3 separate regions of the Homo sapiens genome follow, and regions 1 and 2 are each linked to region 3. The links come from fine-mapping of genetic effects on gene expression. A gene starts in region 3. Each other region holds a variant in brackets. All regions are shown on one strand. Distances are from middle to middle.

The links. PIP is the estimated chance that this variant, and not a neighbour inherited with it, causes the effect. A credible set is the group of variants that fine-mapping cannot tell apart.
Region 1: its variant is the best candidate, but not a certain one, in a credible set for the expression of PGGT1B in prostate (GTEx, PIP 0.83).
Region 2: its variant is the best candidate, but not a certain one, in a credible set for the expression of PGGT1B in esophagus mucosa (GTEx, PIP 0.57).

The regions. Positions count from the first base shown.
Region 1 is chr5:115,214,869-115,219,228 of GRCh38, reverse strand. It overlaps PGGT1B (protein geranylgeranyltransferase type I subunit beta), which reads left to right. Exons shown (of 9, transcript NM_005023.4): 8 at 2,256-2,364. Among named protein-coding and RNA genes, the nearest start is that of PGGT1B, 46 kb to the left of the region's middle. The variant A/G (reference allele first, on the strand shown) is at 2,576.
Region 2 is chr5:115,284,163-115,288,162 of GRCh38, reverse strand. CCDC112 (coiled-coil domain containing 112) reads left to right here. Exons shown (of 10, transcript NM_001040440.3): 2 at 3,255-3,376. Among named protein-coding and RNA genes, the nearest start is that of CCDC112, 10 kb to the left of the region's middle. The variant C/T (reference allele first, on the strand shown) is at 1,805.
Region 3 is chr5:115,261,025-115,265,384 of GRCh38, reverse strand. PGGT1B (protein geranylgeranyltransferase type I subunit beta) reads left to right here and starts at 2,508. Exons shown (of 9, transcript NM_005023.4): 1 at 2,508-2,673. The coding sequence starts at 2,534. It also overlaps the pseudogene RPS2P26. RefSeq lists enhancers at 2,390-2,439, 2,470-2,649.

The DNA.
Region 1 (4,360 bases), 46 kb after region 3:
TACTGTTTTAATTACTGTAGCTTTGTAGTAAGTTTCAAAGTCAAGAAGTTTGAGACTTCCAACTTTTCTTTTTCAAGATTGTTTTGGCTATTTGGAGCCCCTTGCAATTTGATATGAATCTGGTAATTGACTTTCCCATTTCTGCAAAAAAGTCTTTTGAAATTTTGATGGGAATTGCATTGAATCTGTAGATCCCTTTGGGTAGTAGTGATATCTTGACACTGTTGAGTGTTCCTATCCATGAGCACAGGATGCTTTTCCATTTATATAGGTGGTCTTCAATTTCTTTCAGCAATGTTTTGTAGTTTTCAACATACAAATCTTTCACCTTTTTGTTAAGATTAAATTCTCAGTATTTAATCATTTCAGATGCTCTTGTAAATGAAATTGCTTTCTTAATTTCCTTTTGGATTGTTCATTGCTAGTCTATAGTAACTACCAACTTTTTATGGAATAGTTTTAACAGGCATTAAGGATCATTGCTTAAATCAATTATGGCATTAAGAGGTTACAAAACAGTGGTATTCTTTCATTCCTTCTCAATTTATTAACTAGCATTGTTTTTTAAAGAAGAATTTTACCTTACCCTGAGATATACTTTGTACAGAGAAGGACAGATAAATACTGAATTCTTTCCCTTAATAGTGTTCAACAAAATGAGTTGGTTCCCTACCATCCCCTCAGCCTTTCCAATAAAATATTAGATTTTAGAGTTTGGGTTTTTTTTTTTTTTTTTTGAGAATCATTGTGAACACATAGATTTTAACATTTTTTAGTCATATATTATATATAATATATATTAGTTATATATGACATATATATATATATATACACACACACATATAATGCTTAAATTGTCCTATCTTTAGTCTATAAGAACCCTTTCAAGTTGTCCCAAGTCTTTTTTATTTGACGTCAGTAGTCTTTGACAGCTTTCTGAAGGCAACCACTTTTAAACTTTTTAAAAATGTTTTAATTCTTGTGGACATTACCATAACTTTAAATCACAGACTGACTTCTTATCACCTTTAGACATTATTGATGATTCCCAACTATGAGAAATTAAGATTTAGCCTCTCACTTTTCCAACAAATTGTTACCCGTTATAGTTAGTTCTGAATATTTTCCTCATCTTCTACCTTCCAATGCTATATAAGGTTACCTTTATTTTTATAATGTTAAGTTAGGACACATTCATATATTTGTTCAATATTAATAATCACATCTTTCAGCCTTTGCCTATAGGTTGATTCTAAAATTTAAAAACCAGTAATCAACACTTATTATGGGATAGTGAAAATATTGTTTATTGCTAAGCCAAGTGCAGTGTTACTATTATAATTTTTTCATTTTTATGTAATGACCAGTGTGCCACTGATGGAAAATATTCCTAACATCAAGATTCAAAAAAGTCTTTTTCCTTATATTTTATTAATTAAATCAATGTAAATGAATAAATTTGTTTCCTGTTTGTACCATAACTTTCTTATGAGTTTAGCTTTTCTTTTTGAGAAATAATGCTTCTTCATTAGTCACTAAAAGCTGTGGCTCTCTCTGGTTCATTAACATATATTAAATTGCTTTGTATCATCAGAAATGTCTTGAACCCTCTTACCTACTGTGCACCTCATCTTGAACTTCACAGTATTATTTATTTATTTGTATTTTACTTTTATGGGGTCTTGAGAGAAAAGCCAAGTACATGTCCTAAATCATTAAAAACTATATAGTTTTTTATGTTGCAATCATTTTTGTCTTACCTTTTTCTTTCCTAATTAAAGAGCTATACTTTTTTACTATTTTCAAAACTGTCTGTAGCATCTGGTTAGTAATTTTTGTTTGCTCTTTTTTTAAAAAATATTTTTAATTCCAGTTACTACTAGTTTATAACTAATAGCTCAAGAGCTTATCATAAGAGTTAAAATATGGGTAGATAAAATTGTACTTTTTAAAATGACTGATTATGTTGAGTGGATTCGAGTTGTCTTTTGAATTTAGCTTAATGTGATTTAAAGGGTTCAGTTGGCCTGGTTCAGAAGAAGGAAATAGAGAGTCGAGAAAAGGAGAGTAGATTTGATAAGAAAATTAAAAAGTTAATGTGATTTACTCATTTCAAAAGTGCTCAAGGCCCCAGAGACTTGGTCTGAGCACCTTAGCTAAAGAAAAGCATATCTAAATGACACGTATCTGAAATTTGAGCCAAAGGTTGATATGAGTTTTATGTCAGTAAATTTTTATTTGTCATGTCATTTCAGCTTCTAAAAATTTTCCAATACACTAACTTTGAGAAAAATAGAAATTACATCTTATCAACTCAAGATCGCCTTGTAGGGGGATTTGCCAAGTGGCCAGACAGTCATCCAGGTAATTATTTTCTTTGTGAATCAGAACAACCTTTATTTCCTGAATAGATCTTCAAGCATCTTTATCAGAAAAGGCATATGATAGAAAATATATCCAGTTGCAAAGTTACATTAAATAATATTTTTTAAAAGGTATATTGTGTAAGCTTAGGATAAATTTAGGGTATTAGAGAGTATAAATGAAAGAGTTTATTATCAAGATGCATGGGAAT[A/G]GTGTGCATTTTTTCCCAAATATTTTACTTAGTAATGTTTTATTTCATTTGCAGCAATAATGTAGATGGTCTGAATGGGTCCTTTCCAAAGAAGAGAATTATTTAGGCCATCCAAAGCCGTTAGGATTATTAGTCATGACTTGAACTAAGTATAATAAATTACTCCCAATCCTGAAGGGAATCAGTTCTTACTCTTTTCAGAAGTCATTAAATAGGCCGGGCACAGTGGCTCATGCCTGTAACCCCAACACTTTGGGAGGTCAAGGCAGGTGGATCACTTGAGGTCAGGAGTTCAAGACCAGCCTGGCCAACGTGTTGAAACCCCGACTCTACTAAAAATACAAAAATCAGCCAGGTGTGGTGATGCGTGCCTGTAGTCCCAGCTATGCGGGAGTCTGAGGCAGGAGAGTCACTTAAACCCAGGAAGCAGAGGTTCCAGTGAGCCGAGATTGCACCACTGCCCTCCAGCCTGTGTGACAGAGCGAGACTCTTTGTCTCAAAAAAAAAAGTCATTAAATAAAATATTTCAAATCCTGAATATATGTGTTTCTCACTTCCCATACTCTTGTTCTCCAAATTTCAACAGATTCAGACAATATAAATGGCATGGCACTCAAGGCCCTTCCAAAATTTGGCTCCTCTCCCACCTCTAGCATCATTCTGCAGCCTACACCTCACCCGACATATGTTTTCACCTCCAGCAAAATGAGTCTATATACAGCTTCCCTATAAAAATCCATTTAAGTGTGTTTTGAAATAATTTCAAACACTGACACTTTTGATAAGCAAGTAGTTAAAGAATTAGTTACAAATATGAAACTAGACACAAGGAATGATTGTTTTTGCCAGTATTGCAATAGAGTCGTGGTTTTTATTATCAGCCTGGAAAGTGCCTCATCAACTCATCTTCCATCACAGAACTGCTGTGGTTGGAATGTGTGATTGAATCAGAATATAAATAAGGAGCTCATGAAATCAATTTTTGTATTTGAAATGAGCAGGAATATTTCCTTACACCCCTACTTGCCTATATTTTCATATAAAACATGCTTCCTAGGCCAGGAGTTTTGGCTCACGCCTGTAATCCCAACAGTTTGGGAGGCTGAGGTGGGCGGATCACTTGAGGCAAGGAGTTTGAGACTAGCCTGGCCACATGGTGAAACATTGCCTCTACTAAAAATACAATAATTAGCCAGGCGTGGTGGTGGGTGCCTGTAATCCCAACTACTTGGGAGGCTGGGGCAGAAGAATTGCCTGAACCTGGGAGGCAGAGGTTGCAGTGAGCCAAGGTCACACCACTGCACTCCAGCCTGGGCAACAGAGCAAGAGTACATCTCAAAAAATAAAATAAAATAAATGGCCGGGTGCAGTGGCTCACGCCTGTAATCCCAGCTTTGGGAGGCTGATGCTGGTGAATCACTTGAAGTCAGGAGTTGAAGACCAGCCTGGTCAATATGGCGAGACCCCGTCTCTACCAAAAATACAAAAATAGCCAGGCATGGTGGTGCACACCTGTAGTCCCAGCTACTCAGGAGGCTGAGGCAGGAGAATTGCTTGAACCCAGGAGGTGGAGGTTGCAGTGAGCCAAGATCTCACCATTGCACTCCAGCCTGGGCGACAGAGCGAGACTCTGTCTCAATCAATCAATCAGTAGTAAAACATGTCTTCTTAGAGAAAGTGTACATTGCTTTCAAAGTCGTAAGCCAAAGTGTGTCTTCAGAAGTTAATTTCTCAAGCAAAATAATATCTTGAAATTTTTGATATCTCTAGTGCCTCAAAACTGAG
Region 2 (4,000 bases), 23 kb before region 3:
CTAAAAATACAAAAATTAGCTGGGCGTGGTGGTGGGTGCCTGTAATCCCAGCTACTCGGGAGGCTGAGGCAGGAGAATTGCTTGAACTCGGGAGGCAGAGGTTGCAGCGAGCCAATATGGTACCAATGTACTCCAGCCTGGATGACAAGAGCAAAACTCCGTCTCGGGGGGAAAAAAAAAGGCATTTTAGATTTTTGGTACCTGTGTTAAAAATTGTGTGCAAATTGAAATGTGTGTGTACTGATTTTCAACACAACCAATAAAATCTCAATTATTAAATAATATTTTGAAGCAAAAAGAAAAATAAAAGAAAAAAGCAGATTGGAGTTGAGCACAGTAGCATGTGCCTGTAGTCTCAGCTACTCAGGAGGCTGAGATGAGAGGATCATTTGAGCCCAGGAGTCCAACCTGGGCAACATAAGAAGACCCTCACCACTTTAATTAAAAAAAAAAAAAAAAAAAAAAAGGAAAGGGGATTGGTTAACATCTGTTTACTTCGGGTAACTTATGAAGGTAAAAGCAGAGAGGCTTTTCTTATTACTCGGGCTCAGGTTGACTGGACCCTTTCTGATTGGTTGCCGTGCATCTCTTGTTTTCAGGAAAAATTGGTCAGTTGGGGAAATCTACCTCTTTCCTCAAAGTTTCATTTTGATCATGTGGCACTTAGCATGAGTAACTCCATTTTTATTTTGTCTGGTCTTTTGGGGCCTACTGCAGGAGCTCTGTTCAAAACAATAGCCTCCCATAAAAGTTGAGTAGCATAAATAACTGTTACAATTCAACAATAAATAGACAGCCAAATTTTTAAAAAGGGAAAGGATTTAAGTAGACATTCCTTAAAAGAAGTGGCCAATAAGCAAGCACATGAAAAAAATGCTCAACATCATTAGTCATTATGGACTAATCAGAACCACTGTGAGAAATCACTTCATACCCATTAAGATGACTGTAATAAAAAAGACAGACGATAACAGTTATTGGTGAGCCTGTGGAGAAATTGAAACCCCTATACATTGCTGGTGGGAATGTAAAATGGTGCTGCCACTGTGGAAAACAGTCTGGCAATTCTTTAAAAAGTTTAAAATTTTGGGGCTTCGAAGGCATTATCAAGAAAGTGAAAAGACAACTCAGAGAATGGGGGGATATATTTACAAGTCGTATGTCTAATAAGGGACTTTTACATCCAGTATATAAAGAATGCTTCCAGCTCAACAATAAAAGGGCAATCCTTTGTTGTTGTTGTTGTTGAGACAGTGTGTTGCTCTGTCCCCCAAGGCTGGAGTGCAGTTGTGTGGTTATGGCTTACTGCAGCCTTAATCTCCTGGACTCAAGTGATCCTCCCACCTCAGCCTCCTGAGGTGGCCTCCTGGTGGCCTCACACCACCATGCCTGGCTAATTTTTTTTTAAGTTTTTATACAGACAGGATCTTGCTATGTTTCCCAGGCTGGTCTCAAACTCCTGAGCTCAAGCTATTCTCCCACCTTGGCCTCCCAAAGTGCTAGAATTAGAGGCATGAGCCACCAGGCCCCACTATGCCACCCAATTTTTCAAAATGGGAAAGTAAAAAAAAATAGTTACTTTATGATCCAGAAATTCTGCTGCTAGGTATATAATGAAGAGAATTGAAAACATGCATTCACATTAAAACATGTACACAAATGTTCAGATTAATTTGGCCAAATAATGGAAACACCCCAATTGTCCATCAGCTAATGACTGATGAGTAGATAAAGAAAATGTGGTAGACCCATATAATGGAGTATTATTCAGCTGTAAGAAGGAATGGAGTATTGATTCATGGTA[C/T]AACACGGATGAATCTTGAAAACATCATGTGAAGTGAAAGAAGTCAGACAAGGCTACACATTGTATGAGCCCATTTATATAAATTCTCCAGAATATGCAAATCCATAGAGTCAGAAAGTAGATTAATGGTTGCCAGGAGCTGGGAGGAAGGGGAATGGGGAGTGACCTCTAATAGGTATGAGGTTTCTTTTTGGTATGATGAAAATATTCTGAAACTGGGTAGTCATGATGGTTACAAAACTTTGTGAATACACTAAAAACCACTGAATTGTACACTTCAAACAGACATATTTTATGGTCTGTGAATTACATTTTGACTTAAAATATATTTCCTAGATTTAGATTTAATACTTTGTTCTTTTTTGCTCCTGGAAATTTGAAGCCTTGTTTCCTTTTCCCCTCATCCCCCACAACCCATTTTTATTGCTCAGCAATCCCTCTGGGTGATACCTCCAAAATACATTGAGTCTTCTTTTATTTTCTGTCAGCCCAGTAGTCCTGGACACTGTCATTCCTTGTCTCTATAGCTGTACTAAGTACCTCATTGATCTCCTGCTTCCAGTCTTGCCTCACTCCACCCCCACACCTCCCATCAATTTCCTCTCCAAAAAAATAGCCAGAAAATTGTTCTTAAAGAGTTAAATGTATCATGGCATTTCCCTGCTCAAAACTCTTCAATAAAATCCAGACCCCCTAAGTGACCTAAAATATCTGTATGATCTGGCACATACCTGCCTCTCTACTTTCATTTTCCTACCAAGATCCACACCGTTACTAATCTCATGACACAATTGGCCTTTCTCTGCTTGAACTCAGCAAAGTCTTTCATGCTCTAGGGCTTTTGCACATGTGGATCCCTTTGCTTAGAACACACTTTCCTACTGCTCCTGTCATGGCTGGCTTCAATCTTCCTTAAAGTCATCCCTTCAAATAGACCTTCTGTGACCACTGTAACTGAAACCCTTTCTCCGCTTTCTCCATCTGAGCCCTAATATTTATTTTCTTAATAGCATTTATTGCAGCTGGTGGAGTTTTCATTTTATTGCTTGTTTACTCTTATCTCTTTAAATCTGTTTTTCCTCACTAGACCTTCAGACAGGGACCATATTATTATAGATCATCATTGTTTTCCTAGTGTCTAATGTAGCCCGTGTCACTTCATAGTGTTCAATACATATTTGTTAAATGACCGACTGAATGAATTAGATCATTTTGCAAATAATCCCTGGATATTTAACATTTCTTACTCAGTTTAGCATTTTAAGATAGATATTCCTTCATTTGATAGATACTCCTTCTTCCACAAATGTACTTTTAAGAGTTAAGTGAGATTGGCCCCAAAATTATCCTTCAAGAAACTCAACTATTGACATTTTATCTCTCTGAAAAAATTCCACATTTATGTCTTACTATTTTCATTACTGTTAAGTTTTTCTTGTTCTCAATGCAGAGTGATGGCTGTTTTAGTACTTCAGGTGGAATTCGTCCTTTTCATCTTCAGAACTGGAAGCAGAAAGTTAATCAGACTAAGAAAGCAGAATTTGTACGCACAGCAGAAAAATTTAAAAATCAGTAAGTATAAGAATATAATCTTCAAATAACATTACTAGCCATTTTATAATGGACAATAAAAAATTAATTCTACTCTACCCTACCTAGGCTCACATTAAGTTATAAAATTGTAATCACTAGCCTGTCAAATATAACAAGAGAAAGATGGGAGGTATGAAATAATAGGCTGTTCAATATAAAGTTAATTGTAAATAGAGTTATTTCAATTTTCTTTATTTTTACAATTTTGAATCTGTGTATTTCAAGGGAAAAAAAATAGCTGTTTCTTTAGATTTTATATAACGAATAACAGACTTAATCTATTTTCACTTTATAACTAAATGCCTGGTAAATGTTTTTGAGGAAGTGAATCGTTTTTGTGTTTTTTTATTATGTGTATATGAAAGTGTTTTATAATGTTTTATAAATGACGAACATCATATATTTAAATTGCTCTTCTTCCTGTTTTACAAATGAGGATGTTGAGGATCATAGAGGATAAACATCTTTCCATAGGTTACATGGTTAATAAATGGTGTTTGAGGGACTCTTAGGCTGGCTCCAGCCACTCTGAAAGCCATTGTTCTTCTTACTAACCAGTGATGTTCACCACCAAGCCTATTTGAATATGTGGGTGTGATCTCA
Region 3 (4,360 bases):
CTGCAGAGCTCGTGGAGGCAAGACCAAGGACAAGGAGTAGATGGTTGTCACCAAGCTGGGCTGCCTGGTCAAGGACATGAAGATTAAGTCCCTGGAGTAGATCTATCTCTTCTCTCTGCCCATCAAGGAGTCTGTGATCATTGACTTTTTCCTGGGGCCTCTCTCAAGAAGGAGGTTTTGAAGACGTGCCAGTGCAGAAGCAGACCTGCACCGGCCAGAACACCAGGTTCAAGGCGTTTGTTGCCATCAGGGACAGTGGCCACACTGATCTGGGTGTTAAGTGCTCCAAGGAGGTGGCCACTGCCATCTGCGGGGCCATCATCCTGGCCAAGCTCTCCGTTGTGCCCATGCGCAGAGGCTACTGGGGGAACAAGATCGGCAAGCCCCACACCATCCCTTGCAAGGTGACAGGCTGCCACGGCTCTGTGCTGGCGCGGGTCATCCCTGCGCCCAGGAGCACTGGCATCGTCTCGGCCCCCATGGCCAAGAAGCTGCTGCTGATGGCAGCTATCAATGACTGCTACACCTCAGCCAGGGGCTGCACTGCCATCCTGGGCAACTTCGTCATGGTCATTTTTTATGCCATCTCTAAGGTCTACAGCAGGCTGAACCCTGACCTCTGGAAGGAGACTGTATTCACCAAGTCTCCCTATCAGGAATTCACTGACCACCTCCTCAAGACCCACACCAGAGTCTCCGTGCAGAGGACCCAGGCTCCAGCGGTGGCTACAACATCGGGTTGTACAAGAAAAATAAAATGAAGTAAGCCTGGAAACAAAAAAACTACATTAATAAGAAACATAGAAAAAACACTAAAGAAGAAATGTTATAAAGTACCCATAATTCCAGGGTAACTTTTTCAAAAAACATACCTACATATTTTTAAATTGTTACAGTCATACAGTACATATTAATTACTATGCTATAATTGCATTACACATTTTCGTACATTTCTACCTAATTCAAACATTATCATGTAATGGCTAAATAACACTCAATTATATAGATGTTCTATCATTCCCATTCTGTTATGCACATGCCAAAAATCTTGTAGGGATAAAATCACTCATGGAAAGCCTTTTACCGACCTAGGAGGCATTCTGTATTATCTCTGAATGAGTCCCACATTGCAAATTTTTCCTCTAGATTTGGATCAGATTGCTAGTCCTTGAGCTGAGAATCAGATGAAACATTTGGCTTCCCTAACTTAAGGGCCATGTTTATTAGAATTAATTTTCTGAGAATGTATAGAGTGTCCATAGCTGATTCCAGTAAGTTAAATGTGTATAAGACTCCACTTTAAAAATCTTCAGGCATTTGGGGGTATGTGTGCTAAGTGAGAGATCTTAATTTTAATAACAGTGGAAACTCCAGACTGGGCACACCTGAAGGGCAAGGACTGTGAGCTCCGTATTTGTAGGGAAGTACCGAGGACAGCCTAGAATCCGTCTGTGGCTGTTAAATGCGGCATTTTGTAAAGACATGCAGGAATACCTGTGAATAAGTAGTTAATAGTACCAAAAATTATTCAGAGCACTTTGGATTGTTGAATAAGTGTAAGATTACCCCAGCCCATAGAGTATAAGAATTACATTTTCTAAGAAAGCTAACAAAATTAAACCCAAAATTTTATTAGCTAAGTTGATCACAGGGAACCTAGTTTAGTTATATTATTGGGTGGATCCCCCCACCCGCTACTCAGGAATGCCTCATGAAAGTTTAAAGGGCATAGTATACCGGCTAAACAACTTAAATCCCTATTTTTGGAAAAAAGAACTAGAAGCATGTTTAAATTTTTTAGAATGCAGGTAATTGGAGAAGATATTGAGCTTATTTTGCTGTTGCAGATTGATGCACCATTGATTCTTGATAACACGTCGACTCAAGCAAAGTAAAATCTGTAAGATTTGTAAAAGAATGACGCAAGCAGTCATATATAGGTATGAATATGCATGTTGTATATGTTTGGGGGCATTATACACAGATTTTTAAGTGATTCCTGGTATCCAGAAAGGATTAAGATTAGGAAAGTCTCTGAGCTTTTGTAGTGTCAATAAACATTTATCTCCACTGGTTTGTTTTTCTGTTTCCCTAACCGTTCGGCTTAAAACTGGCCCTCCAAAAATGAATCTGTTAGCAAGTTTATACTGATCCATCCTCGTTTTCAGATATACCATCCTCAGGTTCTACAGAGCCAGAATTGTCTCAAAGCGTACTTGATGCTTTTGACCTTGCGCTTCCCAAGATAAAAATTCTGACGGAGGGATTTGTGGACTTGATTTTCACAAGGCCTGCGAGGTGTTTACAAGCCTCGAGGGCTTTGAGTAGAAAAGGTAGGGTCATGCGCTAGCTAGGGAGATATCGGAGAGAGGAAGTGCTGCACAGGACCCAGATGATAGCGGTTTCAAATACTGGCTTAGTCTGCGGCGGGCGCAGGTCCCCTCACCCGGCACCCTGTGGTTCAGCACAGGAGGGTTCTTTCTCTCCGCGGGCACTGATTCCGGGTCGCGGCGGACGTCGCTTCCGGAGCAGCATGGCGGCCACTGAGGATGAGAGGCTAGCAGGGAGCGGTGAGGGAGAGCGGCTGGATTTCTTACGGGATCGGCACGTGCGATTTTTCCAGCGCTGCCTCCAGGTTTTGCCGGAGCGCTATTCTTCACTCGAGACAAGCAGGTAACTCGTGGCACAGTCAGCCAGGCTGGCACAAGGCCCGGGCTCCAGCGGAAAGGCGCGGCGGAGTCGGACCGCAAACTGGGCGCCGGAAGGGGGCTGCGCGGCCGCCCAGTTGGCACTGACTGGTTTCAAGTGGGCTTGAGGTTACCCCCACTCTCCCGCCGTACGGTGGGAAGGTCTGGAAGGCTGTAGGTCGAGGGCTGTGGCATCTCCAGTTTCCGGCTTTTTCACTTCCCTTTTCTTCTGGCAACTCTGAGCTGCTTTTTTACCCGCTCCCATAGCCTGTCACTTTGCCTCATTACTTCCGAGTGTAAAAGGAAAAGGACAAAGTTTGTCGTCGTATTTTTAGATGAATACTTCTGTGCATCCTTGTCCTCTCTAAAGTCATTAACTCTTAATAGAGTGTCTGTATGGTGTTTTATGTGTAGGAGCGGCAGAGAACCTCTAAGGTCTTAGAAACTTTGTGGGAACTATAAATCTAATGGTAGGCGAAAGAGGTGTGGTGTTGCGTGAAGCAGCCTGTTAAAAGTATCGCAATAGCTGAAGAGTGTGGTGCGGCAGAGACTAAGCGACTTCATTTACAGTAAAAGCTGGGGATGAGAAGAAAGAAAGGAGAAGGCAATCTTTGCTCCGCATTGCTGTGTTTTGAAGTGAAGCTCAAAAGCTGCTTGAGACTGGATGGGAGGAAAGAGCGGCTTGTTTTTGCTGTGTTCTTTCCCCACGTTTTCCAAATTCTGAGTTGCTGGTGTATTTTGAACACTGCATGACCGGATCAGTTTGGGGAGCTTTGCAGATTACTTCTGCACACTTGGTCAAGAACCACATTATGGTAGGTGCCAGAGTACAGCTGAACAAGACAAGCATTTGTATAGAGTTCTGTGCTATATGTTAGTGTAGTGTTCATAGGAGTATATAGACAGGCATGTACATAATCCAGATATCTTTAGAGAGGCCTTCCTTAAACACCCTTCCTAAAGGGACCACTTCCAATGACCACCTCACATTACGTATGTATTGGTTTATTTGTTTAATGTCTTTCTATTACACTGGATTATAAACTTCACAAAGGTAACATTTTCGTCTATCTTGTTTACCTCTATACTTAGGACTGGGCTGCCCTGTCCAATCTGGTAGCCACTAGCCACATTTGGCTATTTTGATTTGAATTAATTAAATCAAATTAAAAATTAAGTGATTCTTTTGGTAGTAGCCACCACATTTCAAGTACCCAGTTGCCATATTGGCCAGTGGCAATTGTTTCTATTTCAACATTTGCAACAGCTTAGTCCTTTTGGTCAACATTGCACTAGGACCTTAAATAGTACCTGGTATCTGAGAAGCACTAAGAAATATTTGTTGAATAATGTGAGCTGAGCCCTGAAGGATGAACAGATTCTCACAAAAGAAAGAGTGAAACGTTTATATTCCTTCCTCCTCTCATAGGTGTTGATCGATTAGCAGAGCCTATACCTTCACTGAAAGATTCAGATTTCCAAACCGAAAGGTTATGATTGTAGTGATATGAGATGTTTTAAAATGTTGATAAATTGTTTATATCTTAATAGGGATTAATTTTATGTGAATTCAAAGCTTTTAGATAAAAAGTCTTCCATCCTGTTTTTGTTATTGATACATAATGTGCATATTTATCGTATACATACACTGCTTAGATAGATGCAGTGTATAA